Linked DNA regions of Homo sapiens. The protein of the gene in region 4 purifies or fractionates together with the protein of the main gene of each other region. This does not show direct contact. Each region holds a gene or a part of one and is shown on either strand. Other genes may lie near its edges. The genes, in order: COPS7B, BPIFA2, CST2 and RHOBTB1.

Region 1 (8,800 bases), on a different chromosome or scaffold from region 4:
AAAGTAAAGTATTCTGGTGTTTGATTCAGCACTGAATAGGCACAGACTTTGCAAAGGAGAAGGAAGAATGACTGACACAATTTTCTTTTGGACAGATTTCAAGGCCAGAGAATGGCAGGGGAACAGAAACCCTCAAGTAATCTCCTGGAGCAGTTTATTTTACTAGCCAAAGGTACCAGTGGCTCAGCCCTCACTGCTCTCATAAGCCAGGTCTTAGAGGCTCCCGGAGTGTATGTCTTTGGAGAACTTCTGGAGCTGGCCAACGTGCAGGAGGTAAGAACGGTTTGCAAACAATTTCTCTTTATTCTAAGACTCTGTAATTCTCCAGGTTTCCAAAGAATTTCAGTGCTGAAGTATTGTGAACCTGTGAGGTACCCTATTGTGAGACAGATGGGAATTGGTGGGGCAGAGGGAGAGATTGAGAGAATATCCTTGGCTCCTTTTATCCAGTATTTTTATCTTACCTTGGGTAAAATTAGATTGTTGCTAATAATAACCTAAAAGATAGTAAAAAAGTCAAATTGATCCTGATAAATTAGAAAAGTAGTGCTGTAAGCATGGGCTGTTTAATAGGAGTAGATTCATGCATTCTTAAGGACCAGAAACCTCCAGTGCAATATCGATAAGGAAGATTGGTCAGGGACACACAGCAGAAACATACTGCTATTGAACATAAGATGGACATGAATAGGAGTGTATTGTTCTTGAGGAAAAGGGCAGTGTTGTGCTAAATGTGTTAGATGTGTTAGATATGACATGAAAAGCTAGGACATAGTTCATTTTACTTGTTTGCTTGCTTGTTATTAAAACCTTGGATATCCAGTTTTGGTCATTGTGCCTCAAAAATGAGAAGATCCATTGAACAGAAGGAACAAAGAGATGTAAAGCAATCTATACTTCTCAACCTCTACTTTCCAATTTGAACATTTTTATTTATTTATATTTATTCACTTATTGAGAAAAGTCTGTAAGCATCTTTATTGTTTTGTGGGGTGGAGGCTGGTGCTCAGGAGCTTTTGGCGGATTGGTGGGGCAGGTCCCCTTCCTCTTCATCCTCACAGGCTTCTGGCTATGCAGACTGGTGCTGGCTCTGTGGAAGCTGCCATGCATAGATCTGGGTGATGGTACTTCTTGTGGAGCATGTGCTGGATGCTGTTGAGAGTGGCCCCGGAGTTCTTGGTGGTGGCGATTTGCATATAGGAGGTGGTTTGCTTTTGTTGGGCAGTTTATCACCTTCATGACCACCACAACACCTTTGCTGTTGGCTCCACACCCACAGTCAGTTTTAACAGGAGTTTCAGTGAATCAGTTAGTTGTAACCAAAGGAGTTGCCGGCCTTCAGTTTATTGGATTCGGTGCTGTGTGTCTGCCTATTCCTCTTGATGGGGAAACTGGAGCAGTTCCCTACAGTCCAGCCATTTCAGGTGCCCAATTATGTCTCCTCTACCTGTGATGTTCAGAGATGAGAAGAGCCACTTTTACTTTTTCACTGTAAATTTTTATTTAATGTCAGCCTTGCTTGCCGAACTATAAACTCTGTGAGGAGGTCTGTAGTGCTCACCATTGTTTCTTTAGAGCTGAATACGTAGCCTGACACACAGTAGGCTTTCAATAAAAATTTAATTTACCAGAAGTGGAAAATGAGTTTTATGAAGAAAATTTCAGAAAACTGAGTTCATTTTTCAACACAAGAGATGACCAAGGGGTAATATGTTCCTTCAGGTTCATGAACAGCCTGCATGAATATGCCAAGTAGTTGTTTTGTAACTGTGGAAGATTGGCTAAGAGGAGATGGATGGAAAGTAAAGTCAGAAAGACCTTATTGATTTAGGCCAGTGGGAGAAGTGTTGGAGTATCTGCTCTGGAGAAAATGCTCTTTTCCGGCTAGTTTTGTTAATTATGTTTCTGAAAAGGGGGGCTAGATTGGATGGTCTTTACCAGGTTTCTTCCCCTTCTGATTCAGGGACTTCAGGAGGTTTGTGGTAACCTGAGAAAGTAGCCTGAGGTATTATGGTGCTGGAGTTCTCCATAGGGTGCTTAGCAGACCACCTTTATCTCCCCATACATTGCGTTTTTCCATATGTGAGCTGAGAATAAGCTGGTTGCCTTTCAGTGATCTGAAATTATAGATGCATTTCTTGGAAGCTTTATTTTTTTTAATGGCTAAAATTGAGTAGTATCGCTATTGCTGTCTGTAGACTACCACTTGCTATTCCTGTTTAGAGTTTACTGGGCTTGGTAAGTTGGAAGGGTAACAGGAGCACGTTTGTGATTTTTTTTTTTTTTTTTTGAGACGGAGTCTCGCTCTGTCGCCCAGGCCGGACTGCGGACTGCAGTGGCGCAATCTCGGCTCACTGCAAGCTCCGCTTCCCGGGTTCACGCCATTCTCCTGCCTCAGCCTCCCAAGTAGCTGGGACTACAGGCGCCCGCCACCGCGCCCGGCTAATTTTTTGTATTTTTAGTAGAGACGGGGTTTCACCTTGTTAGCCAGGATGGTCTCGATCTCCTGACCTCATGATCCACCCGCCTCGGCCTCCCAAAGTGCTGGGATTACAGGCGTGAGCCACCGCGCCCGGCCCACGTTTGTGATTTAAACAACAACAACAACAACAACAACCAGTTAACGTAATTGACAGCAGAGAAGTTCCAGGCAGAACAGTGGCTCTTTCGTTTTTCTTCTACACATGGCTTTTTGCCATCAGCATCAGTGAAGAGTAAGTAATTTTAATGAACATTTTGATTTGGGGCAGACTGATACCCTGGTTTTCTGTCCCAGCCTGGCTTTCTGTCATACCTTATGATGTGCTGGTCTCTCCCAGGGTTCATAGTCCACGTGTAGTCCTGAAACTTGGAACCAACCCTGAGCTTTGTTCACTTTGGGTTGGTGGTGGCTCATGCCATACCTACCAAGCTGGTATGTAGATAGGGCTGCTCCAGTCTTTGTTTTAATGCAAACAGAATCTTGAGAAGATTTGAACTCCTTCCAATGCTTAATGCTTTGTATGTGTGTGTGAGAGAAAAGCAGTTCGTTGGGCATGCTGTATAGAAAGTAAAACATTCCTGAGAGAGAGAAATTAAATTTGGGGCTTTAATAATCTTGTTTATTTTTTCCCGAAGAACCAGAGTTGGTAGAGACCCCAGGGGCCAAGTAATCAAATAGTACAGAATAAACAGCCATGGCATCTTTGACACATGCTCACCCGTCCTCTGTTTGAACACTACAGTGATTGGTAGACAGTTTGGTCTGTGGTGAACTTTTTTTTTCCTCTTCAGCTTGCGGAAGGAGCTAATGCTGCTTATTTGCAGTTGTTGAACCTGTTTGCCTATGGGACATACCCAGATTACATAGGTGAGTTGGTGAAGATCCTTCAAAAGACTTGTGTTAATTATGTTGCTCAGTTTGGAAGACCATCAAGGTTTGAGATATAAAGCATGGGGTAGTGGGGAGACTTCTTGACCTGGCTGCCTCCCATTTTGCTGTGCCCGGTGGGTGACCTCACAAAGGGAATGTTCCTTCTCACCTTTTATATTCTAGTGGGTCAAATGGGGCCTGTGTGTGCTCATCCACAAATGTAGCCCTTGTTTGTTTTCCAGATGAGATTCTTGAGGACTGGTGTTTGTAGGGCTCTTGGAGTGCTGTGAAGTGCAGAATACCCACCTGTAGAATGTTTCAACATTTTAAATATTATCAAAATAATACCAGCATATTGAAGAAAATTTGGAAAATAGACTTTTTAAAAGTCACTCATAGGCTGGGCGCGGTGGCTCATGCCTGTAATCCCAGCACTTTGGGAGGCCGAGGCAGGCAGATCACTTGAGGTGAGGAGTTTTACACCAGCCTGGCCAACATGGTGAAACCCTGTCTCTACTAAAAATACAAAAATTAGCTCGGCGTGGTGGTGGGCGCCTGTAATCCCAGCCACTCCGGAGGCTGAGGCAGCAGAATTGCTTGAACCTGGGAGATAGAGACTGTAGTAAGCTGAGATTGCACCGCTGTACTCCAGCCTGGGCAACAGAGCGAGACTCTGTCAAACAAACAAATAAATAAATAAATGTCACTCATATGTTGCTCAGACATTTGGATGCTGGACTTTTTTGTGCCCCTTATGTTTGTGTTTTGTATTACATAGGTACAACTATGTATACAGTTTTATGTCTTGCTTGTTTCTTCCCACTTACAAACATTTATCCATATTTTAAGTCTTTTTAATATTTTTAATATTTCATAATCTACTTAGCTCATTTTCTGTTGCAGGGCATTTGGGTCATTTTAAATTATAATCTGAAGTATTAGGTTGAGGTATTTGTATGTCCAAACACTAACTTACCTTCTACCCAAAGCATTTTTTTCTGGCTTTCCTACCCTTTTTTAATGGTATGACTGTAGCCTGATACTCAGGGCCTTCGCTGCGATATCCCTGACTTCTTCTTTCTCCCTGGTCACTTCTACTTTGTGCTGCTGTCAGACTGGACAGTTTGCCAGTTCCTGGTACACCACATTTTTTTCTGACCTTCCCTTTGTTCCAGGGAATGTGTTCTGTTTTTCTGTCCTTGCTTACTAAAGAGGCAGCATTGCACAGACTCTGTTAGCAGACTGCCTGTAGCCAGTCTGGCTCCACTTCTACTAGTTGTGTGTTCGTTGACAAATGAAGTAACCTTATGCAGCTCAATTTCCTCGTCTGTAAAGTGGGAGTAACAATACAAGCCCATTATTCCTTACCTACACTCCTCGAAGTTAGATGTTTCAGAATTTAGAATTTTTGGGACTTTAAAAAGGTAATATGATGCGCATGCCTTTTTATGTAACACTCCCAGAGGAATGTGGAAACAAGTGGGATAAAAAGCCTGTCTCCGTACAGGTTAGAAATTCCCACCAGGTGAATTTCAGCACCATGCTTAAGAAAAAATCAGTTTGGATATAGTTTTTTGGAATCCAGAATTATCGTTAAGGAATTGAGGACACTTGGAGTCTTGCGGGTTGTTGTGAAGATGAACTGGATGTGTGTATGTACGTGTGGATCTATGCAATCCACAAGATGTAAAGCTTGCTATTTATGTTAGCTGCTGCAGCTGCTGCCCTTGCTGTTATTATCATTTATGGTTATTATTGAAATTTTGCCTCTTTCTCAAGGCTCAACTCAAACTCCATCTCTTCCATGAATTCTTTCTTTTTATCTTCTGTACTTTCCAAATGATACTGTTCTCTTTCCCTCTCCCCTCCCCTTTCATCTCTTTCTCTTACCCCTGTCTCCTCCCCATCCCTCTCCTCCTCTCTTCTAGTAGCTTGTACCTTTCTTCTGGTAGTTCTGCCTTGGATTTGTAGCTATGGAAACATCTGATTGTAAGACCGAGGACAAGTCCAGGGCCATGAAGTTGCACACCTCCAGGTGGTTGGTGGCCCTGGAGTTGTGCCATGCAGCAGCCCTGGCAAAGCCCATCTTGTTCATCCTTGATTCTTCTCAGTACAGAGCATTGCACACAACAGATGCTCGATGAAGATATGTTTAATTTAATTGAATGTCACAAGGGGCACAAATAGTACTCCATTAAGATAATTGCCACATCATTTTGCTTGTTTGCTTTTTAGGAGACTAAACTCTGTGTTTGTAGAAACTGAGTCTTTTCTTCTTTGGAAGTACATAGTCTTCCAAAGAAGACAGGAATATTTGTCAAATGAATAAGTGCAAAGTCATGATAGTGATTCAGTAGTAGATTTGGTTTGGGGAGTTGGTGAGCTTATTCCATAAAAGAAATCCTAATTTTATTTTGTGTCTTGATTTTTGTGGTGGGTGGGACTGAGCAGCCAACAAGGAGAGCCTGCCAGAACTGAGCACAGCTCAGCAGAACAAGCTGAAGCATCTTACCATCGTGAGCTTGGCATCAAGAATGAAGGTACGGTACTGAGCCTTCTCTTGTCTTCCTCCTTACCCCAAGTCAGCTGTCTCATTGACATCAATGAAGGAAGTCCCAGCTGCACATAGGAGAGTCACATCATAAATGCATAAAATTTGCTTGACAGAGGAAAAGATAAAATGGTGTAGAAAAGTACTCCCCATTCCATACAGGAAAAGTATGCCCAGAAGTGATTGACTCAGCAGGTCTTAGTCCTGGCATGCTGTGGTGCCGCATGTGGCATGATCATTTTGCCATATTAAGGGGAGACTGCTGTTAAAGATATACATTTTTCAAATAGCAAGGCATCTCAAGGCAAGTTAACAGCTTAATCTGTTGCTCAGTACACAGTGAACTATGCCCATGCTGGAGGAAAAACTTGCTATGTCGGACTTGCTAGATTTTTTGTTGTTGTTGTTGTTGAGACGGAGTCTCACTCTGTCGCCCAGGCTGGAATGCAGTGGTGTGATCTCAGCTCACTGCAACCTCTGCCTCCCAGATTCGAGCGATTCCCCTACTCAGCCCCAAGTAGCTGGGATTACAGGCGTGGACCACCCCGCCCGGCTAATTTTTTTTTTTTTTTTTTGAGACAGAGTGTTGCTCTGTTGCCTGCGCTGGAGTGCAGTGGCGCAACCTGGGCTTACTGCAACCTCCACCTCCTGGGTTCAAGTGATTCTCCTGCCTCAGCCTCCCGAGTAGCTGGAATTACAGGCACCTGCCACCATGCCCATAATTTTTATATTTTTTAGTACAGTCAGGGTTTCATCACGTTGGCCAGGCTGGTCTTGAACTCCTGACCTCAGGTGATCCACCTGCCTCGGCCTCCCAAAGTGCTGGGATTACAGGCATGAGCCACCGTGCCCGGCCTTTTTAACTTAAAAAATTTTTTAAATTGAGACAAGGGTCTCACCATGTTGCCTAGGCTGGTCTCAACCCCCTGACTTCAAGCGATCCTCCCATCTCAGCCTCCCAAAGTGTTGGGATTACAGGTGTGAGCCACTGCACTTGGTTTTTTTGTTCTTGGATTGCAATTTCAGTTGCTGAAATCATTTTATCTGATCTAATGGCACATTTCTGATTCTCAGCCTAGCATTTCAGGTGGGAGGCCTATTTTGTTGTGAAATGAGGACCTGACCTTTTTTCTTGTACTGATTGTGGACTTCTCAAGTGTAGTAAAGAATGTTGGTACAGCCCAATAAAGAACTATTGTTGGGGAATTCATATTGGTTGTGTCTGAGAAAACAGATACAAACTTCAGGGTGACATCTGAGCTGGCAGTACCCATTGGCCACCTATAGGTAGATATGCTGGCCTGCAAGTTTTTTTTGTTTGTTTTTGCACTCTGCTGGGCAAGTAGCCAGCTCTTTCCAGTGACTGGGATCTGTTGGAGATTTATGGTGATCTAGCAAAGTCTGAAAGCTTCCAGAAGGTGGCAGAGTGGCATATACTCAGTAGTTCCCTTTCTCTCCACTGGTACAAGTTTTTAGGATCTCTACAAGTATGCTGCAGCATGTGAAATCTGAAGGCTGGGTGAAGCCAAGGAGGCAGAGAACCAGGAGGTTGCTTTCTTAGATGTTGGGTCTTCTAGGTCTCATGGTTCATTTATCCACCTCTTGTTGCCCTAGCTATTAATAATTACCACTAGCCTGCGTTTCCCGAGCCTAGAGGCAGCTGTTGGCTATGGGAGTAATACCTGCATTTTCGCTAATGCTTGCCAGATGGTTTTTATAATGATCACATGGCCTTATCTACAGTGTATCCCCTACTCCGTGTTGCTGAAAGACCTGGAGATGCGGAATCTCCGGGAACTAGAAGACCTTATCATTGAGGCTGTCTACACTGACATCATCCAGGGCAAGCTGGACCAGCGAAACCAGCTGCTGGAAGTGGATTTCTGCATTGGCCGTGACATCCGAAAGAAGGATATCAATAATATTGTCAAGACCCTGCATGAATGGTGAGGCTAAAAGGAGGAGGGGGATATCTAGCATGTCTTTTGTGCCTCTCCTTGCAAAAATGTGATTCCCTGGTGTCAGCTGAGGGTTTGGGGTGGGCCTGTAGCTACCTGGGAGCTGGGGCTTAGTGAGCCGGAGAGTGGAGCTACATTTGTGATCACAGCTGTGTGATAACAGGAGTCATTTCAGGCCTCCTGGTGCCTTGGTTGTAAAATAGTTCTTTCCTTAAATGCAACTGGGAGCTATTTAAAAGTGGGCTATAAAATGCCCAGGGTTAGCAGGTGGAGCCTATGTGTCCTAGCTGTGTGAGGCTAGTCCTGCCCTTTCCAAACTCACGCTCAAAGTTTGACCAAACTCAGGAAGGCTAGTGTTTGTAAGATTCTTTCTTTGTTTTTATTATTTTTTCTATCCCTGTTGAAGTTAACATGTTTATAAGATTCTTCGGATAAAAGAACTTACGTTCAAAATCAGTAACATATTGGGCTAATGTTTGTAAAACACCGTGAGGGACATGGAAGACAAGGAGTGGGTCATTTTAACTTGGAATACAGACTCATACAAAGAATATCTGATAACTATACTCTGGTATATAAAAAGCATTGGGACATTTGTGTTTTCTCTGTTTTAATGGAATTTGATATTTGTAAGAGCTGTCTCACATTCTACGAGGATTCACTGTGGAGTGATTTAAATTATTTGGGGCTTATAAAGCCAGATGGACTGATTGGAGAAGTTTTAGCTCAGTTTTGAAGGAAGGCCAGGGTTAGAGTATACCTGGAGGTGAGGAGAGTGTGTTCCCAGGCAGGCACGTGGCATGTTGGAAGCCATGAAGCAGACCCGGTGAGCTTTGTACACAGGTTCGGGAGGGAGAGAGAATCTCTGCTCATCCCCGAGAGAAGCATATCCAGAGAGGAGCAGTGCCACTTTGACTCCTTGGGGCCTGATGTCCCCTG
Region 2 (5,554 bases), on a different chromosome or scaffold from region 4:
CCAACGCGATTGTTGGGAGCGGACAGTGTCCTGCCCCTTCTAGAGCAAAGGAAGAGCCGAGGGTCTACACTTGGGGGAGAAGAACAGCACCCAGAGTACCTCATCTGTCTTGGGCCAGGGAAGTGGAGCCTGCTGGAGGCTGGCAAGAGTAGCGGCCAAAGTGCCTGGAAGCCAGGATGTCACCTCTCTGAGCCTGGGCCCTCTTTGTGCCTCAATGTCTTCATTTGTAGTAAATTCAGGGGTCCTACAGCTGTGGATTCAAAGCCTGGCTCTGCCTCTTGCTCACTGTGTGACCCGGAGGAGTCACTTTGCCTCCATCAGCCTCAGAGTCCTCCTCTGTCAAATGGGTGTGATAATGGCTCTCCTGGTGCATGGGTGTGGTAAGGAATCAATGGAGCCCGTGGGCCGCACAAAGGCAGTCCCCCATGACGTGTTGCCGTGAGCAGCGTGATGCTGTCTCTGCCACAGCCTGGTGCAGCATGGGCCGAGCTGCATTCTGGGGTGTGGATGGAGGGGCCTTGGGTGGAGGGAGAAGCTGGTCTCCATAGGATAGGTGAGCATCCCAGGGTTCTCGACCTCACTAGGGAGGCTGGGCCTCCAGGCAGCCTGGCAAGTGGGTGCACAGGCTCTCAGGTGATGGGAGGGGTGGGTGAGGGTGCTACAGACTGAGAACTCTCAGCACCACCTGGAAAAGACATCTCTGCTCCAGTGGGACCCCTAGAGGGCAGCAGGGCTAACAGGGCAGGTGGAGATGGGGCCACAGGCCTCTGACCCTGCATCACTCTGTCTCATACTCCTGACTCCAGTCAGGCTAGGTGTCCCCTGATTCTCCAAGAATCCTCAGGGCCCCTGGAGAGGAATGGAGGAAAGTGCTGGGTGGGGCTGTCCCCAGAATGTGACTTTCCAGTTCCCATTGCCTGTCTGGCACAGAGTAGGTGTTCACTACATACCTGTTGAATGCATGAATGGATAGATCAGGGGTCTGCTATTGCCACAGATTGGCTGTGTGACTTGGGCTAGTTTGTTGCCCTCTCTGTCTCAGTGGCCCCCTTTATAGAACCAGGAGATGTGGCTGGATATTCCCACTGAGCCTTCTAGCTCTGGATCCAGGTCTCTCCCACCCTAGTTGCAGCCCCCAACCTCCCTCCCCAGTTCCCACCAACAAATCCCAAATGGAGGGAATGCAACAAGCCACACAGAAGGGTGCAGAAATGGGCCTTTATTGCCAGGGGCAGGACAACATGTGTAGAGGCTGCTGTTCTGACTGTGAGGAGAAGGGGTATCTGGGAAGGTCCTTCTGGTGGGACTCAGGCTTTCACGCTGGTTAGGTGGTGGCAGCAGCTTCCTGGAGGGAGATGCTATAAGGGGGTGGGGCAAGCCACTGGGAACCAATCTGGAATGAGACCAAGGGGGTTAGGACATTTGCTGCTAGGCTGCCCTTACACCCAGCTGTCAGTCATCCACTGGGCACTTGATGGGACCCAAGTTGACCTGGCTCCAGTGTCCCAGCTCTTTCCCACAATACCCCATGCGGTTTAAGTCCTGGGAAGAAGAAACTGGCACCTGTGGTTTGGGGTCTTTCATTAGCACCTGGCACTGACTCATCTTCATTCCCCTCACCCTCCTTCAGAACAATGGTAGATGTGAAAAGATTGATTGAGGCCACTACTGGAGCCAGGTTCAGGGCCCAATATGTGATCAGAATCATGGATATCCATTTGAGACCAAGGTTGGGGCTCATTCTGTGACCAAGACTAAGGCTCAGTCAATAACTGGCATCAAAGCTCAGTCTGTGACTAGGATCCAGGCTCAGTCTGGGGCCAGAATCAGAGTTCAGTGATTAAGGCTCAGTGTTCAGAGTGTGACCAGAATCAGGGCCTAGCCTGGGATGGGGGCCAGGGCTCAATCTATGACTGAGATGAAGGCACAGTCTTCTAACACAAAAATAAGGGAAGCCACGCTTGACTTTTACTTCACCATAGGCCCCTGTGCATTGGGGCACAGAGACTGGCTCCTCACCAGCATGCACCACAGTGGTCCTCCTCATTCGTCCTCTTCAGATGAGGGTTTGCAGCTGGGTTTTGTGCTGAGGATTATCTGAAGAAACAAAATCAATAGCAGGCCTTAGTCTCTGCCACTGGAATTGAATAGAGACCAGACTCCAAAAGATGCCGCTCTCCAGCCGGTAACCTGACAGTTGTGGGACCCCAGGGATGTTGCTCCACCTCTCTGAGCTTCAGTTTGTTCATCTGTAAAGTGGGTACAATGACAGTACCTTCCCCACAGGGTTGTTGCAAGGATCCAGTGAGATAGTGTGTACAGAGCACAAAGTGACTGCCTAAGGGACTGGACTTGTGGCTATTTCCTTTCTTCTTCTTCTTTTTTTTTTTCTTTTTTTGAGATTGCGGTCTCACTCTGTCACCCAGGCCGGAGTGCAGTGGCATGATGTCGGCTACCTGCGATGTCCGCCTCCTAGGCTCAAGCAATCCTCCCGCCTCAGCCTCCCGAGTAGCTGGGACTCCAGGTGGATGCCACCACGCCTGGCTAATTTTGTATTTTTTAGTAGAGATGGGGTTTCACCGTGTCACCCAGGCTGGTCTCAAACTCCTGAACTCAAGTGGTCTGCCCACCTCAGCCTCGCAAAGTGCTAGGATTACAAGTGTGAGCCACTGCGCCTGGCTGACTTGTGGCTATTTTCATAGAAGGGTCACCTCCAGGGTCTTGACAGCTTTACTTACTCCATTTCTCCCCAGCAACCCCAGCCATGCCTGTAGACCCAAAAGCCAAAGGGAGCCCCCGGGTGCCTGTGGAGGGGAAGCCATGGCTCCCAATTTGCTTAGGACAGTGGGTCCTTCTGCTTCTCCAGGGTCCCCTGACCAGAACTGCTTATGGGGTGGGCACAGAGCTCCATGCCTGCCTCAGAAGGTCCCCACTTCCCCATTGACTTACCGACGACCTGCTGAATGACATTCACATCCAGGGAGTGGATGAAGATGCGGATCAGTGGACATATCTGACAGCGGAGAAAGGAGGAAGAGGAGGGTCAGGAGTAGGAGGAAGAACAGATCATTCTTCTCAGCTGAGAACAAATTGCTTGCCACCCACAGATGAGCTCATTTCTAGGGATCTTAGAATCTTTGAACCTTAGGATTTTATTTTGTTTTATTGTATTTTTTTTTTTTTTTCTGAGACAGAATCTCACTGTCTTGCCCAGGCTGGAGTACAGTGGTACGATTTCTGCTCACTGCAACCTCCGCCTCCCAGATTCAAGTGATTCTCCTGCCTCAGCCTCTCAAGAAACTGGGTTCACAGGCACATGCCACCATGCCTGGCTAATTTTTGTATTTTCAGTAGAGACAGGGTTTCACCATGTTAGCCAGGCTGGTCTTGAACTCCTGACCTCAAGTGATCTGCCCACCTTGACCTTCAAAAGAGCTGGGATTACAGGCATAAGCCACCGCGCCTGGCCTGAACCTTAGGATTTTAGAACAATGGGATCCCAGCAGTCTTAAATCTGGAAACCCTAGGGTGTTAGAATCCTAACACCTTAGAACACTAGAATTCTAGGACCTCAAAAATCTACATTCTAGATTGTTAACATTCCCATGTTGAACTTTGGAACCCTGGAATTTTAAAGGGTCAAATGGTGCCCTGAGGCATTTGCCCTGAGGTTGTAGAGCGGAGTATCTCTTGCTCCTGTGTGTACACAGTTCCCCGCAGATTGCAATTCAGCAGGTCTGGGGTGTGGCCTGAGATTCCGCATTCCTATCAAGCACCCAGCTGAGGCTGAAGCTGGTGGAGGATCGCTTTTGGAATATAACTAAACTCCGGTTCAGTGGGTCACAGAGCCATCCGGAGGATTTTTCTTTTATAAACCCACATTCCTGGGTCTGCTTCCAGAATGACTGATTTAGAATCTCTGCAACTTTGGGCCTAGTAATCCTGCACATGGTACCTATGGTTTTGGATGATGCACAGATGGAAAAAAAATTAAAACTATTTTATAAGTCCATTGATTGTATGATATGTGATATTAATTTTCTATTTATGATAGGGATATAAAGTTTTATTTTTAAAAATAAATGCTTCTAAAGAAACATATTTAAGTAAAATTGTGTTGAAGATGTTAGCTACAAAAGCATATTGGTAGTGCGTGGATATGGTGAGAGGCTCAAGTTTGGGACCTGGCAATTTCAGCTAATGTCAGGCCTCTGCTCTACCCTGCTACCCACCAGGCTGATTAGTAGAGGAGGAAGCTCCAGCTGACCTCCTAAGGAGAAGCTTTCACCTCCGAAGGAAAAGTGCTCAGAGGATACAGCCAGGCCTGCAAATTCCCCCACCTGCCCCCACCAGGCCTGGATCTGGGCTCCAAGGAGTGGGAGACTCACCTCCTTCTGCAGCAGGGAGGATACAGTGCTTTTCAGCGTGTTGATCACGCTATTCACGAACTTGTTGATGATTTGGCTGTGTCTGGAAAACACAGGGAACTATTAAAGTCTGGTCAAGTGGGCAAGAGATGGGAGAACTGCCAAAAAGTTGGGGGCGGTGCGGGAAATACTGTGGAGTCAGATAAACCCCAGGGACATGGAGACACTTTAACAGACAGAGCCTCCCATCCACATGGATCATCACTTAGACTCCCACATCTGACCAGCGGCTCACCCCAGTGCCTCATGAGATTCTCAGCGCAGAGACCTTATTCGTTCACTCATTCAACCCGTATTTACAGAGCACCAGCTATGCACCAGGAACCTAGCTGGGCCCTGAGGATACCGAATAAGTAAAGTACAAACATCCCCTAACCTGGTACCTAAACATTAAGGGTCCAAACATACCCTGATGTGGTACCTAAACAAATCTTGCCAAAGTTGGCTCCTCCCACCTTCAACTCTTAGTATAATTGCCACCTCCTCAGGGCACCCCTCCCTGACTGCTTACCTAAGAGAGAGCTTTGCTATCACAGTGCCCAGTTAAGGGTAATGCTTTCTGCAGGACTCATTTCCCTGGAGCGTTCTTTACCGATGGACTGAATTTGGGTTGGATTGGATCCAAAGTGCAAAGAAAAGCGCTGAGAGGATTTGGAGCTGTAGAGTGGTGTCATTTCACAGATGTGGACACAGATCCACGGCAGCTTAGCTTTCCCTTGGGTAAGCTCCGCAAGAACAGGGACCTTGTCTGTCATCACCAATCAGTTCTCCAGAGCCCAGAATGGTGCCTGCCTGGCACACAGCAGATGCTCAATACACTTTTTTTTTTTTTTTTGAGACAATGTCTTGCTCTGTCACCCAGACTGGAGTGCAGTGGCACGATCTCGGCTCACTGCAACCTCTGCCTCCTGGGTTCAAGCAATGCTTGTGCCTCAGCGTCCCGAGTAGCTGGGATTACAGGAAACCGCCACCACCCCCGGCTAATTTTTGTATTTTTAGTAGAGACAGGATTTTGCCATGTTGGCCAAGCTGGTCTTGAACTCCTGACCTCAAGTGATCCACCCACCTCAGCCTCCCAAAGTGCTGGGATTACCGGTGTGGAGCCATCGTGCCCAGCCTCAATACAT
Region 3 (9,042 bases), on a different chromosome or scaffold from region 4:
CACTCCAGAACCATGAATACCGTTCAGATGCTGGTCCCTGAGAGGAAGGATTCTCTTTCTCCCCATGGAGTGCAAAACAATCAGACCTGACACTGGGCTCTGCCCTCTCTCGCCTTTCCTAGCTGGGGCTACCAGCAGGCTTCCCCATGAGTATCACAGTTTCCTAATGATGTGGAAGAGCCAAATGTGATACCAACATGGGCCCATAGTTTAGAAGCATCCACATGTCCTAGCAGAGCCAAATGTGTTACCAATATTGGCCCATAGTTTAGGACCTTCCACATGTCCTAGCAGAGCCAAATGTGTTACCAACATGGGCCCATAGTTTAGAAGCTTCCACATGTCCTAGCAGAGCCAAATGTGTTACCAACATGGGCCCATAGTTTAGAAGCATCCACATGTTCTAGCAGAGACAAATGTGTTACCAACATTGGCTCATAGTTTAGAAGCATCCACGTGTCCACCATGTTTGAGGAGAGGGAGAAAAGAAGGAGGGATAGAGTGTGAAAGAGACAAGCTTGACCCCAGAGAATTCCAGGCACTCCGTAAAAGGGGCTTCTGGGCTTCCCATTTGAGAAGCCACCAAATCCTGTGGCTGTTCAGTCTCAGCTCCTACCATAGATCAAAGTGTTAGTTGCTCAAAACCCAGATGTGCAGAATCTCAACTCTTGGCCAGGTTGTCCTCACCACCTGCACCTGTAGGTGATGCTTTCTGTGTTTGGTCATTTGTTTATTGTAGTATTGCTTAGTGTTCACTTATTATTCATCATTTATTGCAGAGAACTTCTACCACTCACCTAACTTCTCATCCTGCTAATTCAGATAATAGGATCAGTAGTCACCCATGCAGCCTAGGGGAACAGAGCTTTCTCTTTCATCACCTAGCAGAAGGAAAACTTGCCCCCTCCTGGGCAGCTAGACTCCTCCAGGTTACATGGGTGCTGGAGGCCCCAGGCTTGTTCCTCAGTCCATGGTTGCTATCTGGCCCCCTCCTAGTGTGTCCTTAAAACTGTGGACTATAGAAATCAGGGAACAAAATGTTCTGTCATTTTTTTTGAGATGGGGGTTTCACTGTGTTTCACAGGCTGGAATTGAACTCCTGGATTCAAGGAATCTTCCTGACTCACTCTCCTAATTAGCTAGGATTACAGGTGCACCACCTCACCTGGCTATTCCATCATTTTCAAACATGTTGCTACATCACTGGTAAAGTCTGCTCATCTCTGCTGGTCTGAACTCCCAGACAATACGCTTTAAAAAGTAGCCTCTTTCTCCACACGCACAACAGACACAACATTTGCCTAAGGTCATCAAACATCTGGAGCAGCTGGCCAGCTACCCCCACCTGCCACTTCCTATCACTCCATACTGGACATCGCACTTGTACCTCCTCAGAAAAGCAACATACATTGGTATCTTTCCTACTGAGATTAGAGAGGTTGCTGCATCAGGACAGCTGACCCTCCCTGCAGTGCATGCCAGCATCCTGACACAAGATGACCACTGGTGGTGTCATCACATACACGGCACAGATCAGCACTTTGGCCTCCCTCCCTCACACTCCACCCACCAGCAAATTCTCACTATTTGGGTTACCTGTTTGGGAAAAGAAAGAGAGATCAGACTGTTACTGTGTCTATGTAGAAATGGAAGACATAAGAGACTCCATTTTGTAAAAGACCTGTACTTTAAATAATTGCTTTGCTGAGATGTTCTTAATTTTGTAGCTTTGCCCCAGGCACTTTGACCCAACCAGGAGCTCACAAAAACATGTGTTGTATAAAATCAAGGTTTAAGGGATCTAGGGCTGTGCAGGATGTGCCTTGTTAACAAAATGTTTACAAGCAGTATACTTGATAAAGGCCGTCGTCATTCTCTAGTCTCAATAAACCAGGGGCACAATGCACTGCGGAAGGCTGCAGGGACCTCTGCCCTTGAAAGCAGGGTATTGTCCACGGTTTCTCCCCATGTGATAGTCTGAAATATGGCCTGGTGGGATGAGAAAGACCTGACTGTCCCCCAGCCCGACACCTGTAAAGGGTCTGTGCTGAGGTGGATTAGTAAAAGAGGAAAGCCTCTTGCAGTTGAGATAGAGGAAGGCCACTATCTCCTGCCTGCCCCTGGGAACTGTATGTCTCAGTATGAAACCCGATTGTACATTTGTTCAATTCTGAGATGAGAGAAAAACTGCCCTATGGTGGGAGGCGAGACATGTTTGCAGCAATACTGCCTTGTAATTCTTTACTCCACTGAGATGTTTGGGTGGAGAGAAACATAAATCTGGCTTACGTGCATGTCCAGTCATAGTACCTTCCCTTGAACTTAATTATGACGTAGATTCTATTGCTCACATGTTTGTTGCTGACCTTCTCCTTATTATCACCCTGCCCTCCTGCTATGTTCCTTTTTGGTGAAATAATGAAGATAATAATCAATAAAAACTGAGGGAACTCAGACCGGTGCCGGTGCAGGTCCTTGGTATGCTGAGCGCCGGTCCCCTGGGCCCACTGTTGTTTCTCTATACTTTGTCTCTGTGTCTTATTTCTTTTCTCAGCCTCTCATCCCACCTGACTAGAAATACCCACAGGTGTGGAGGGGCAGGCCACCCCTTCAACCTGCATCTCCTTTCCAGTGATAAAAAAAAATGAGAGGATTTCTTGACCTTCAGCTTATCCTCTGCACAGCAGCTCTTCCTGAGTCTGGACTCCCAGCTATCCCAGGAAGGTGGGAGCCACAGAGGAGAACTAAGTCCTACCCTTTGGAGATGACCACTCTGCTCACAAACACCTGGTAAGGGACTTCCCTCTCTCTCCCTTCTCTGGGAATTTATCCCCATTCCCTGTCTAACTAGGAGCCATCCTGCGCAGCCCTGTTTGAAGACCTTCCCTCCATCACCCAGCGGTAAACACCATCCCTGGGACACCTGCTGTATCTGCTGGGATGCATGGTTTTTCTAGGTGTGCTGGATTGACAGTGGTGTGCAATGGTCACTGGGCCTTGGATAACAAGGTCCCCTGTCCTAATACTGAACATGAACACCAATGAGTAATATTGTTCCTGCTGCCGGGTCCTGCTGATGCAGCCCCAGCCACGGCTGAGACCCAGGATCCCAGCAGCTCTGGGTTGACTCTGTCTGACCCTCACCTCCACTACTCCCAGGAGAGTCCTCTGGATGCCATGCAAAGGCCCAGGGTTTCCTGGTGTTTCTCACCAAGCCTTCCACCTCACCACAAGGGCATTTGCCACAGGGTCACCTTCAGGCATGGAGGGTTGGGTTGAGAGAACAAAGGGAGCAGCTGTCTGTTCAGGGCCTCCTTCCATCCTCCCCAATCCTGGAGCCACATTCCAGCACAGGCCCACAGCATCCCAAGCTGGAGACTTTGTCACCCCACAGAGCACTGTGGTGATTAGGTCCTCTCAGTCTGTGGAGAAGGAGAACTCCCAATCCTGGCAATGAAGCAACTTGGGGGCCACTGGAAAGCCACGCTGAGCAAAGGACGAAGACACATCTGGGATTGCTCTGCAGGATTCCATTCCTGGGAATCTCAAGGGCAGGTGACAAAGGAGTCTACAGGACTGGACAGGGGCTGCCAGGGTGGGGTGGGCACGAGGATGAGCTGCAGAGGCAGGAGGACACCGTCTGGGGCAAGGCAGATGTCAGAGGTCTGGACAAAGTGGTAATACAGGTGTATGTATTTACAAAATCTTCCAGGTGGGCACATACTATTAGGCATCTTACTGTATGTAAATTCTACCTCCTTCAAGGCAATTTTTAAAATATCAGGTGGGTCTTCCAAGCAGTGCATAGAGGAAAGAAGCTGGAAGCATGGCTGCCTAGGAGAGAAGCAAGTGAGGCCTGTGGGCTCCCACATTCATCCCTTGGCTTCTGCTCCCTCTTCTGACACCCCCACTGCCTGCCAGGTGTCTCCCTGCACCTTGTGGGCCCCACCCACAGTTACCATGAGACACCAGGTCATTCCCTTCCCTGCTCACATCCCCTCCAGGAGCTTCCTCTTCCTGGAGCAGGCATGTCCCAATCCCACCTCAGGGCCTTTGCACTGGCTGTTCCCCAATGCCTGGGGCTTCTCAACCTCTCCAGTCTCATAGAGACCACCCTGACCAGGGTCCAGTGGTCTCTCTCTAGCCCCTGTTCTATTTCACTTCCAACAGAGTGAGTATAACTCCCTGATCCTAATTGTTGACCATAACCTATCATCCCCTACACACACTGTGTAGGAACGGACTGTACAGTTTCATAGCCACCTGCCACATGTGCCACGGGACACTTGAAATGGGGCCAGTCCAAAATGACTCCCAGGCTAAGTGTAAAAAATACACAGCGAATTTCAAAGATTTACAAAACCCCTCCAACAAAAAAAAAATCTCATTAATAATAGTTCCTATTAGCTGAAATAATATTGTGGCTGTATTAGGTTAGATAAATATTTTAAACATTACTTTCACCCATTTTTTCTCATCTTTTAAAATGCATCTACTACACATTTTCATATGCTCGTGGGTTCATGTCACATCTCTGTGGGCAGCAGCTCTGCAATGTCACCTCTATGGCTCATCATCCAGGTTCAGTATTCAAGCCCTAGACCTCCTGGCACGGGGAGTAGCTGGTGATAAGTTTTTTTATTGAATAATGAGTTATGAAAAGAGAACCCAGTGACCTTTTCAAAAAAGGTTAATTCCCTTGAATTTGGCAAAGAAATTCTCCATAATAGGGTGTGGACAGGGTCTTCTGGAACCTTCTGAAATAACCTCCCTGTTCCAGAGATTCAGAGACCGTGACCAAGTGCTCCTGGATGCCTCTGATATCTGAAGACCCCGGAGGCCAAGCCCTGTATTTTTCACTTTTCTGAGCAAACAGGAGGTCACATTGTTTTCATAGCCAAAGGAGAAGTGTCATCTCTGTGGAGACCTGGTGACTCAAGCTTGGGAGCACTGGGGAAGAGAGGCATGGCTCGGGGAGGCTGCAGTGAGGACAGGAGTGGGGAGGAGGGGTAGATAGAGGAGGAGGCCTGGGAGGGGCAGGGAGAACTTAGGCAGGGAGGGATCTTGTGGTTTCTGAGGAGTGAAAAGAGAGATGGAGAAAGAGGGAATGAGCAGAAAGAGGAGGAGGAGTCAGGGGCAGGTCATGGAGGGGGGTGGGGCTGAGCTGCCAAAGCAGGATAAATGCACAGCTGCCTGCTGGTCTGGGATCCCCGCCTCAGGCTCTCAACCTCCTCTCCTGCAGCTCCAGCTCTGTGCTCTGCCTCCGAGGAGACCATGGCCTGGCCCCTGTGCACCCTGCTGCTCCTGCTGGCCACCCAGGCTGTGGCCCTGGCCTGGAGCCCCCAGGAGGAGGACAGGATAATCGAGGGTGGCATCTATGATGCAGACCTCAATGATGAGCGGGTACAGCGTGCCCTTCACTTTGTCATCAGCGAGTATAACAAGGCCACTGAAGATGAGTACTACAGACGCCTGCTGCGGGTGCTACGAGCCAGGGAGCAGGTGGGTGCTGCCTCCACCTGAGGGGTCCTGAGTCCCAGCCTTGTTTGTTGCCCGATCCATAAGAGCATTCGCAGCACATCAACACTGATACATTCATGATCTAATGCTCAGATTCATTCAGCTTTCCCTGACTCTCTGCTTATGGCCTTCATGCCTAAGCATGCTCCCGGGGGATGGAGACTATGCTGACTCTGGATGGGCTTGATGCTGCTCAGGATGAGATCCAGGCCATGAGGCTCACCCTCCTCCCTGAGTCCTCTCCTCAGGGGCCACACAGGAACTTCGCTTCCTGTTCTGCAGAGCCCTACTTCACTCCCCAAGTCACACCCGTGGGTACAGCCCTTTAGGGCTAATGGCCTTCACCCTCAGGCCGGCTGACCACCCCCTACAGCCCAGGGCAGCTGAGTCCCTGCTGGGGTGGAGCACGCCTGACCCTGCCTCTATGAGTTGATGCAGAGTTAGACCTCAGCCAGATGAGGACAGCAGTTACCCAGTAGAGAGGAGGAGGTGTCAGGTCAAGAGAGAGCTTCAGAAGGGCTATTGGGCCCAGCTTTACCTGCATCCCATGGCAGAGCAGCAAATAGTGACACAGGCTTTAGAGCTCCTCCACCTTCTCTTGGAAATTCAAAGGAATCCAGACCAGCCCCATTTCTCCTCCTGCAGCTGTCAACTGGGACCCTCACCCTGCACGGGAGGTGCACTCCCTGGTGCCATGGTCCCCGCTTGCCTCCACCTCCCTTTCAAGCATGACAATAACTTGGAGTGAAGCACAGGGCATTGCAGACCATCAGGCCCGGACGCCTATTTTATACATGGGTAAACTGACACCCATGGGTAAAAAGAGTCAGTGTTCCCTTGCCCCTGAGCCACAGGTGGCAGAATTCAATGAATCCTTTTACCCAGCACAGAGAAAACAATATTTAAGAGGGGGCATGAGGCCCAGCACCCTGCCAGCTGACAGGAAGAGGGGGCTTGTGTGCCTTGTGTTGACATGTGGGCAGCTCACGAAGCCCCCAAGCAAGTCCAGTGACTCAGCCACAGTGAAGTGCCTGTGAGTGCATGAACTGATGGGGGCGCTGTCCGTGCATCCTGTTTTCTCATGTGTGTAGATCGTGGGCGGGGTGAATTACTTCTTCGACATAGAGGTGGGCCGAACCATATGTACCAAGTCCCAGCCCAACTTGGACACCTGTGCCTTCCATGAACAGCCAGAACTGCAGAAGGTACGTTCCTGATGCGGGTCCCAGGCCAGTCATGCACTGCAGAGGGGTGCGTATGTGTCAGTCTCTGCCCTACACATGTTTGGAGGGTGTGTGTGTGCAGGTGGGTATGTGGGGAGTCATGTATGCATGGATGTATACATGTTCATGTACTTGTGGAGGGTTGTGCATGTAGATGTGCATGTGGAAAGGTGCATGTGTGTACACACATGTGCCAGTGTGTGCAGGGAGCTGTATGGGAGCATGTGTGCCTGTGTGTGGGGATTCTGGGGGTTTGTACATAGATCCATGGGGTTGAGGGGTCCAAGTGAGTTTACGTAGTTGCCTATGTGTGTGCAGATGGGGTGGTGAGGGAGGAGGGTGATGTGTTTGATTTGCTAGGAAGCCTTCAGCTTGGGAATGGTTACTGGGAGATCAACTCTGCCTGCTTTGGGGTGTTGCCTGTTGGACAGGAAGAAGCAGCTGTGGGGCTGTGTGCTGGGCAGGGAGAAGGGGCTCTGTCTAATCCCAGCCTCAGGTACCTGCATGCAGCCACAGACACAATGATCAGATTAGTGGGACCTAGAGGCCTGTTAGCTGGGAAGCCCTGGACCTGCCCGGCTCACCCAACACCAGCCTCTCCAGGGACCTGCTGGTTCTTGTGAGGTCTCCACTCAGGGGAGAGCCACACTCCCCTTGTTACCATTGCCCCATGCCCCAGCTCTTTGAGGCGGAGTTGCCCTGCTCTGGGTTCTTCCCTCTGGCCCCTCTTAGTGCTGGCCTGAGTGCTGGAGGTGGAAGGAGCTGGGGGAAGTGAGCCACCTCCCCATGCCCTGCACCCTTGGGGCTCCCAAGGTCTTGCACAGGCTGATCCTCACAGGGCTGTGCTGGGACAGGACACTGCAGGCTGCGGTGGGGGCCCAATGCCACCTGGTGACTTGGAGCCTTGGGAGGGGCAATGGAACAGTCACTATTCATTCTAGTTCAGTGCTCTGGGACTCAGCAGGGGTGGGTGAGGGCCCAGTGTCTCACCTCCATCCTCCTCACTCAGGCTGTGACATCTCATGCCTGGGTGACTTCCCCTTTAACTGTAACTCACACTGATTGGCCCTCTCTCTTCCCTTTCACAGAAACAGTTGTGCTCTTTCCAGATCTACGAAGTTCCCTGGGAGGACAGAATGTCCCTGGTGAATTCCAGGTGTCAAGAAGCCTAGGGATCTGTGCCAGGGAGTCACACTGACCACCTCCTACTCCCACCCCTTGTAGTGCTCCCACCCCTGGACTGGTGGCCCCCACCCTGTGGGAGGTCTCCCCATGCACCTGCAGCAGGAGAAGACAGAGAAGGCTGCAGGAGGCCTTTGTTGCTCAGCAGGGGACTCTGCCCTCCCTCCTTCCTTTTGCTTCTCATAGCCCTGGTACATGGTACACACACCCCCACCTCCTGCAATTAAACAGTAGCATCACCTCCCTCTGAGTTCTTGGCTGTCTGGGGATGTGCACACAGGCAGGGTTTCTGCAGTTCCTTTATGAAGCCTCCTTGTTCTGCTTGTGTGGAGATCAGAGGAGTATCTGGGACCTGACATGGCCACAGCAAGGCTGTCAGGGGAGCTGCTGCCACTTTTGGAGGCCTGAGCTTTAGAACAGGGAGACAGCAGCCAGGGGCTGGAAACCCAGGCCTTCAGGTGCAGCAGCCTCTGGTGAGGGGGTCAGGGAGAGGAGTGGGCCAGACTGCTGCCCGGGAAGCTGGGCTGCTGCTTTGGTCTGAGCTACTGGTCCAACCAGGAGGAGGGGGCTGGCTGTGTCCACAGGCAGGGCTCAGGCCTCGGTGGAGCTTGCTAGGCTGTAGATTCCATCTGTGCTTGCAGAGTTGAGCAGACTCCAAGTGTAGCAGGATGAGCCATAGACAAATGTCCTCAGACACCAGATTAAAGAAGGAAGAGGTTTTTATTTGGCTGGGAGCATCAGCAGACTTGCGTCTTAAGAGCCAAGCTCCCGGAAAAAGAAATTCTTGGCCTTTTTATAGGCTTACAGCTTTAAGGGGTCCACATGAAAGGGTCATGATACATCAAGCAAGCGTGGGAAACTTGACTGGGGCTACATGCATCAGCTAACAGAACAAAAAGTTTTACAGTGCTTTTTTCATACAGTGTCTGGAATTTACAGATACCACAAGTAGTTTGGGTCAGGGGTTGATGTTACTATTATTACTTTTTTTAACTCCTAGAGCCAGGTGGTGGTGCCAAGGTTGTCTGGCTATTTATCTTACTTTTGTTTTTTTCCAACCTTTTGCTTTTTCTCTCCTCCTGTCTTGTGAACTAGGCAAGGTGGAGGGAAGAGGGCA
Region 4 (7,000 bases):
ATGTTTTTGTTAAATGATTTGGGGAAAACATGCCAAGATTCCCATTCACTCTCAGAAGGTTTGCTTGGATGTATCATTTTTACTGAAAGCAAAAGGACTCATGCTCCGCTACTTAATGGATGCATATAAAGAATTAAGTTATTTGTTGTGGAATAAAGAATTTAAGAGGAACACTGGAATATCAGAGCTCGTAATAGATGGTGAGTGCTGGTCTTCAGGGTCTACACAGTACTGTGTAAGATTCAGAATGTACCAGGAGGAAATTTCAAGTAATTTTGTCATCCATCATCATCACAAACTACAACAGCATGGTGGATGGGGAAGATATGGGCTTTGGAGTCAGACAGATTCAAGAGGAAAGTCCAGCTGCACTCTGTCCTGGCTGTCTGACCTTGGCCCTTTTTTGTGCCTGTTTCTCCAACCGTGAAATGAGCCTATTTTGCAGGCTCACCACAAGAGTGAAGCAGGACAGGACACATGCAGCACGTAGCACAGGCCTGGTGCCTGGGGCACCCTGATTAAACTGTAGTTGTTATCACTGTCAGCAACATAGGCTTTATTCAGTGTCTGAAGGTTCTCTGACCTGCAGACAGATCAATGAAGGAAATTTTATAGGGGAAAAAAAAAACAATAAAATCTGCAATTATTTACCTATGTGTGACTAGACAAAAGGGACTGATATGGTTTGGCTGTGTCCCCACCCAAATCTCGAATCGTAGCTCCCGTGATTCTCACATGTCGTGATGTCGTGGGAGGGACCCAGTGGGAGGTAACTGAATCTTGAGAGCAGGTCTTTCTCATGCTATTCTCATGACAGTGAATAAGTATCATGAGATCTGGTGGTTTCATAAAGGGCAGTTCCCCTGCACATGCTCTCTCTCTTGCCTGCCACCATGTAAGATGTGACTTTGCTCCTCCTTTGCCTTCTGCCATGATTGTCAGGCCTCCCCAGCCACACGGAACTGTGAGTCCATTAAACCTCTTTTTCTTTATAAATTACCTAGTCTCAAATATGTCTTTATTACCAGTGTAAGAACAGACTAATACAGGGACTGAAGGGCCAGATTCCTGATAAAGGCAGAGCCCATCCTGTTTGCCTATATTTTCAGTGCTAAGTCCTTAAATGTGGACATTTCATTTTTATAAGAGCTCCAGGAGACAACTCTTGAGTTGAGCGACATCCCTTTAAGAAGAGGCGCTTTCCTTGCCAAAAAAGAGCAGCTGATCAAAGTCATGGTTACTATGTATGGTTTTGTTCCTGACATTTTAAAAGATCCAGAAAAGAGCTTCAAAAGTTCATCCAAAAGTGGATATAAAGTAGGTGGTGGAAAAAAGGCCATAAGAGAGCTGGAGTTATTCACCCCAGAGAAGAGAGGGTTGACAGATTTCAAAGTGCAGAGCGTTACAACACTCATGCTACTCTGTTTCCTTCATCTCCATGGAATAGAAGGGCTCCTATCAATACTTTTTTTTGGATAGATGGATGATTTCCCTTCCTGAAGACATGGGGTCAACCAGATGACCTTTTGAAATCTCTTCTAGTTCCAATCTTTGCACAAATCCAAAAGAGCAAATAGAAATCCAGCTCACCAATGTAGGGTCCCAGTAGGTTGAGGTAGCTTGGCACAGTGGAAAGAGTGAGAGCCAGGAGTCAGGCAGAGTGGCTTTGAATCTGCCTCTGAGACTCACTTGTTGGGCAAATTTATGGTAGTAAAAGAACTCAACCTTTTACTCAATGGTAGCACCAAGATCATCTCTGCCTCCTACAGTTCCTGAAAGGATTAACTAATGTTGGCAAAGCACCTAATGTGTTGACTGGCACACAGTAGGCTTTTGAAAAATTGGAGCTTTTATTCTAATTGGCAAAAGAATGGGTAGAATAGTTCCATTTAAATCATAAGAGAGCAATAACACTGTGGTTATACCACATCAGGAACATTGCAAATTCAAGTTGGCCAACTGCCTACCACTGACAACTCCTCATCCCACAGAATCCTCTCTGCAAACTAGAGCTTGTCCATGCCAAAGAATGTTTGAGGGGCAACTTATTAACTACCTTTTGCTATGAAGCAGAGGAAACCGAAGGCAAGGTCTAAAACATGTTGGTTTAAATCTGGCTTCTCTCACTGTCACCACAAGAATCAAATTAATTATTTTAAAAAGGTTTCGAATACATTTTCAAGAATAGGGAATGTATTTCACATGCCTCAAAGTTTATGTCTTGAGTACATCCCACTGAACTGTAATTCTCACTAAGTACAGTAAAAATGTCAGTCACAAAACAGGTTTGCAAACCAAACAAGTTTTGCAAAAACAAAAAAGGTTTGTAAAAGCTATAATTATGATTCCTCTCCTTCACAAATGATATAAAGGTAAAACTTGAAGTCATTAAGAAATTAAACAGCTCTCTCAGAGCCGGGAAATGTACTGGTTAGGGACCTATAGTGAATTAAAAAACTCCTACTTCTCTCAGTTTTTTCCATAAAAATGTAACTTTTTGGCATTACGTCAATGTGATATTACATATTTAGCATTTACAGAAAGATGCTGGAGTGCAAGAGAGAGGAGCTCTGGTTTTTATTCTTTAACTAGAGGTGGGGTCTGTGTCAGGACGCCTGGAGGCTGTGAGGAATTGGAAAAGGCAGAGGAAATACAAGGTACAAACATGCACACAAAGCAAGGCCCTAAGGAGAACGTGGCCAGAAACACAGGAGTGTTCCTGAAGCCCCTCAATGTTGCTCAGAGAATCAAACTTGGCTTGGGGGAGCACTTCCTGTTTCTATCAAAGGGATAATGGGTTACAGTTGACAGAACCAAATGTTACAGACAAGGGAGCAGAACAATGCACTTTGAACCGATGGAGTCACAGGAAAGAGCAGCTTATTTTTGTTGGGAGGGAACACACACGCAGGTATGGCATGTTGTATTGTAAAATGACTCCAGCTATGTCAGAGAGCTGGACGGGGCCCAGTGTGGATCTATGAAGGCCATCGTGCCATTAAATAAATGCTATGCAGGAATCTCACAAGATAATGAAGCAGCCCTTTTATTACCACCACACCAGCTTTACGCTGAGGGGTCATGTTAAATTTCGTTGTTTGAAATGAATACATTTCATTGTTGTTGTTTTCTCTTTTTTTTTCTGTTATTTTTTCACAGGTATTGACAAATGCATAAATTTCTAGTGGCAACAAACCACTGAGCTGTTGAAATAGTCTCTAGATTCTAAACCCAAATATTTCCATTAACTCATCATCAGGCTCATCATTTTCATGACACTGTTTTAGAAGTGGGGATATAAAAAAGTCCTTTGAAATCTACTGTATTTATCCTTACACTGCCTAAAGTCATCAAATCAAGCTTCCTCAAAACCATAGGTGTTACAAACCTGACTGCCCAGCAGTTACAAGCAGGTTCATTTATAATTGTTATTTTTACATGTAGAACAATTGGACAAAAGAAAAAAGCAAAATGGCACCTAAGATAACAATCAACAACATTATAGAAAGAAAAAAAATCCAGGAAATTCAAGGAAAAGAAAACTATCTATGATGTAGGATACTAAGTTCAAAAGTCCTTGTTACCAAGGGGACATTAAAATCGTGTTTTGCTTCCATAACTCTCTGAGTCCCCTTGAAAGAAAGTGGTCTAAGTCACAGATTCTTTCAGTGTGTGAAATAATTCCTGGGAATAGGGCAAACTCTTTCAGCAGTTTATTCATTATTTTAGGCCACTTAGATAAATGACAATAAAAGTCCGTTCAAAGAGCTACTGGCTTGTAGAAATAGAAGAATCTTCAGAAATGCTTATCTCAATACCAAGGAGTAATTCACGTGCTTGGAGTACCTAACTAATAAAATCCTGTAAGGTGATATGATGTTTGATGTTAAGAAGAGACAACAAGGCCATGATATCTACGTTCTACACTGAAAATGAAATGTGTTCATTTATAATTAAGTGGTAAAAAAAAAGTCTCCATTAATACAGAATTTAACAGCTATAACCCATTCATTGAGAGAGACGTTAAGTTATGGTGGCAAGGAGAGGTTGCTAAATATTTTAAGGCACTTTGACCATGTTCCTACCCATATTAATGTCCTTCTAGAGGAGTTTTCCCATTACTAGATTTTTTTCTCCTTTTTAAAAAAATAAACGTTAGTGTTTCTGTTCATTTTGGAAATATGTCTTGCGAAGGACTTTGGAGATATTTTTCTTTCTTTTTAAAAATGACCTTCTAATAAAAATAATAGACTTTTCAGATAACACAAAATCCAAAGCAAATAACATTAGACTCTGCCAATATGGTCATGAAAAGACCAAACAGTCTTTCTGAAGTAGGGTGACCAAGTGCCAAAATAACTTAAAACATTCTAACAGAAGGCAAGTGAAGTGTTACTCAGAGAACCAGCAATCAAAGCAGCCCGCAGTTGGAGGGTGTTACAGAATCCTAATCTAGCAAACCTTCCAGCTTGACCACTGGTTGTTTTCAACACAGTACTTCCTCATTGGCAGGGCACGCTTCTTTTCTTGACATCAGGAAACAATACCATTTTTTTTTCTTTTCCTTTTCTTAGACACAGTGCAGAACCCAGCACATTTCAAGGCCATATGATGTGGTTTTTGTTGATTTGTAAACCCGCTGCTGGTTTTGAAAAGGAAATTGCATTCAAGCTCAACCACGCTGTACTAGTCTTGGTTTACCTGCCATATGCAAAGCGTCTGTCTTTGTGATGATCACCAAAAGTATCCCAAAGCCTGAGAGAAACACTCACTTCATCAACAACATCCCGAGAACGCTCCAAGACCTGCAGGAGAGAGAGAGAGCATCTGTGCTCGGTGTCAGTCAGAAGTTCCCCAGGAGAAGCGTGTTCAAGTCAGCACCCTCAGTGCCATCAATTCACTTGCATTAAGTTTCCTTATTCTATCTGACGGGATTTAAGCTAAGTCTTAATTCCCTTCCTGGAATCATCTGTCTCAACCCTCATTCAGGATACCAGAGCCACAGTCTCCGGTTTGCATTTTGCTTTTGTTTTCTCTCGTGGCACTAAAAAGGTTAGTTTTGTTTTGAATGTGTAATTTATCCACGCTCCTCCTTTAGAAAAAATCAGACTGGCAACCAGCAATGATGTGCCCTAGGGATGCTGAAGACACTCTGTGCATCTTACCTCCTGGCACACGCGGTACTGGTCAATCGCCCACACTGTTGGCACGTGGGTGGCCAGCAGCTGATACTGCGTGAGTGTGGTGTTGCACGCCCTGGCACAGATCAAGCGCGTCTTCCCCACGGCATTGTCACCCACGACCACACATTTGATAGTTTCAACGTTGGGTCTTTCGTAGTCCATGTCAGCGTCCATTTATGAAACTCTGTAAGAAGAGAGTGAACACCACAGTAAGGACACCAAGGCTTTCCAGAGCAATCAAAGACGTAAGAGGTTCAGGGAGTTTTGCCTTCGTCCAGCCACTTCCTTGGAGGTGCACAAGCACAGGAAAGAATGTTTGGAAGTTCGTACTAAGCCTAATTGACACTCAAGTTTTCTTTTTATATCTCACACAAGTACAAAAACATGGGACTGTTATTTTGACCCCAAACAGTTTATTCCCGTTAACTGTTATTTTCTCCTTGGTTTTCTCTAAACACAACCTGCCTACTGGAGCTCCATTCAGCCACTGTCGGGACAGCTGGCACACATTTATAGCCTACTGGATACTCACGTTGGCCTGCTAGCAAGTCCGGTCACCTGTAGGGCTGAACTTCAACATTGGGCAATAGGTAGCCTTGGCAATGCTAGCATCTACTTCATCACAAGATCGCTCATTAGCCAATATCTGTTGTTGAAAAGCAGTTTTCTATAGGTTCAAAACTGTTATGGGGACTTAGAGAATAATCAAAAGTGCAGGCTGAAAGACTACCTGATGTCAAAGAAGAGTAAACTGCTAAGTCTAAATTTAATCAAATTAACTTATATTTATTTGTATTAATCAAATTCATAATTCATAAATATATATGTGTGTGTGTATATATATGTGTATATATATACACACACACATATATATATGTATATGGAATCTCACGCTGTCACCCAGGCTACAGCACAAGCACAGTGGTGCAATCTCCACTCACTGCAACTTCTGCCTCCTGGGTTCAAGCGATTCGCCTGGCTCAGCCTCCTGAGTAGCTGGCATTACAGGTGCCCACCACCATGCCCGGCTAATTTTTATATTTTTAGTAGAGATGGGGTTTTACCATGTTGGCCAGCTGGTCTCAAACTCCTTATCTCAAGTGATCTCCCCACCTTGGCCTCCCAAAGTGCTGGAATTATAGGCATGAGCCACCATGCCTAGCCTTAAAAAAGATATTCTTGAGGGCCCACAATAAAGCAAGATTCAAAAAAATTATCTTCTGTGTTTTCATCAAGAAATCTGGAACATATGGCAAAGAATAATTTTACCAGGAGAGTTACTTTGGAATCTTCCTGAGACCATCCAAGAAGGTTTAAACAGGGCTGCTGATGAGAGGCCAAGAGGAAGAAAAAAAGCACCTGCCAGCTTGGTCTCCCCAGGGACAGGACCCTCCACAAACAGGGGTGCAGGCTGCTTACCAGTAGCAGCTGGACAGGAGGCCAGCCATGTATGATTTTAAGATTTTAATTAATTGTAATTGCCTTTTTGAGGGAGTCTATTGTTAAACTAATAAGAACAGATGCTACACTTGATCTTAGCCAAAAGGCTGACAAGCAATGGAAGTCCATTGTTAAACTGAGAAAAGTGGGTGGGCGGTCATTTTTAAGGAGTCAGTAATGATTTTAATGGCTATGGTAAAGAAACTGTTCAGAGTAAAGCCTAATACATAATTGGGACTCAAGTGTTTGTTTAATTCATCTGATTGAGAAAAATGATAACTTGGATAATGAGATTAAGGGCATTGACAAGGATATATAGAAAGAATATTAAGAAGAATTCTTTTTCACAGTTAGGACTATTGGAACATGGACTGTCT

Evidence for each region.
Region 1: the proteins of RHOBTB1 (region 4) and COPS7B purify together in Homo sapiens (affinity purification with mass spectrometry; 2 studies listed by BioGRID and IntAct, with this or other methods). This does not show direct contact.
Region 2: the proteins of RHOBTB1 (region 4) and BPIFA2 purify together in Homo sapiens (affinity purification with mass spectrometry; 2 studies listed by BioGRID and IntAct, with this or other methods). This does not show direct contact.
Region 3: the proteins of RHOBTB1 (region 4) and CST2 purify together in Homo sapiens (affinity purification with mass spectrometry; 2 studies listed by BioGRID and IntAct, with this or other methods). This does not show direct contact.

Annotation. Positions count from the first base shown.
Region 1 is NC_000002.12:231,788,460-231,797,259, forward strand, and holds part of COPS7B (COP9 signalosome complex subunit 7b), read left to right. Parts: intron 1-95; 5' UTR 96-111; coding exon 112-273; intron 274-279; exon of another isoform or gene 280-2,714; intron 2,715-3,273; coding exon 3,274-3,349; intron 3,350-5,803; coding exon 5,804-5,892; intron 5,893-7,646; coding exon 7,647-7,849; intron 7,850-8,800. UniProt on the Homo sapiens protein: Component of the COP9 signalosome complex (CSN), a complex involved in various cellular and developmental processes.
Region 2 is NC_000020.11:33,177,063-33,182,616, reverse strand, and holds the end of BPIFA2 (BPI fold-containing family A member 2 precursor), read right to left. Parts: intron 4,471-5,554; coding exon 4,389-4,470; intron 3,014-4,388; coding exon 2,950-3,013; intron 2,098-2,949; coding exon 2,057-2,097; 3' UTR 2,020-2,056; intron 1,394-2,019; 3' UTR 1,205-1,393; downstream 1-1,204. UniProt on the Homo sapiens protein: Has strong antibacterial activity against P.aeruginosa.
Region 3 is NC_000020.11:23,822,893-23,831,934, reverse strand, and holds CST2 (cystatin-SA precursor), read left to right. Parts: upstream 1-5,205; 5' UTR 5,206-5,274; coding exon 5,275-5,502; intron 5,503-6,611; coding exon 6,612-6,725; intron 6,726-7,831; coding exon 7,832-7,915; 3' UTR 7,916-8,166; downstream 8,167-9,042. UniProt on the Homo sapiens protein: Thiol protease inhibitor.
Region 4 is NC_000010.11:60,906,186-60,913,185, forward strand, and holds part of RHOBTB1 (rho-related BTB domain-containing protein 1), read right to left. Parts: intron 5,368-7,000; 5' UTR 5,358-5,367; coding exon 5,166-5,357; intron 4,806-5,165; coding exon 4,702-4,805; intron 1-4,701.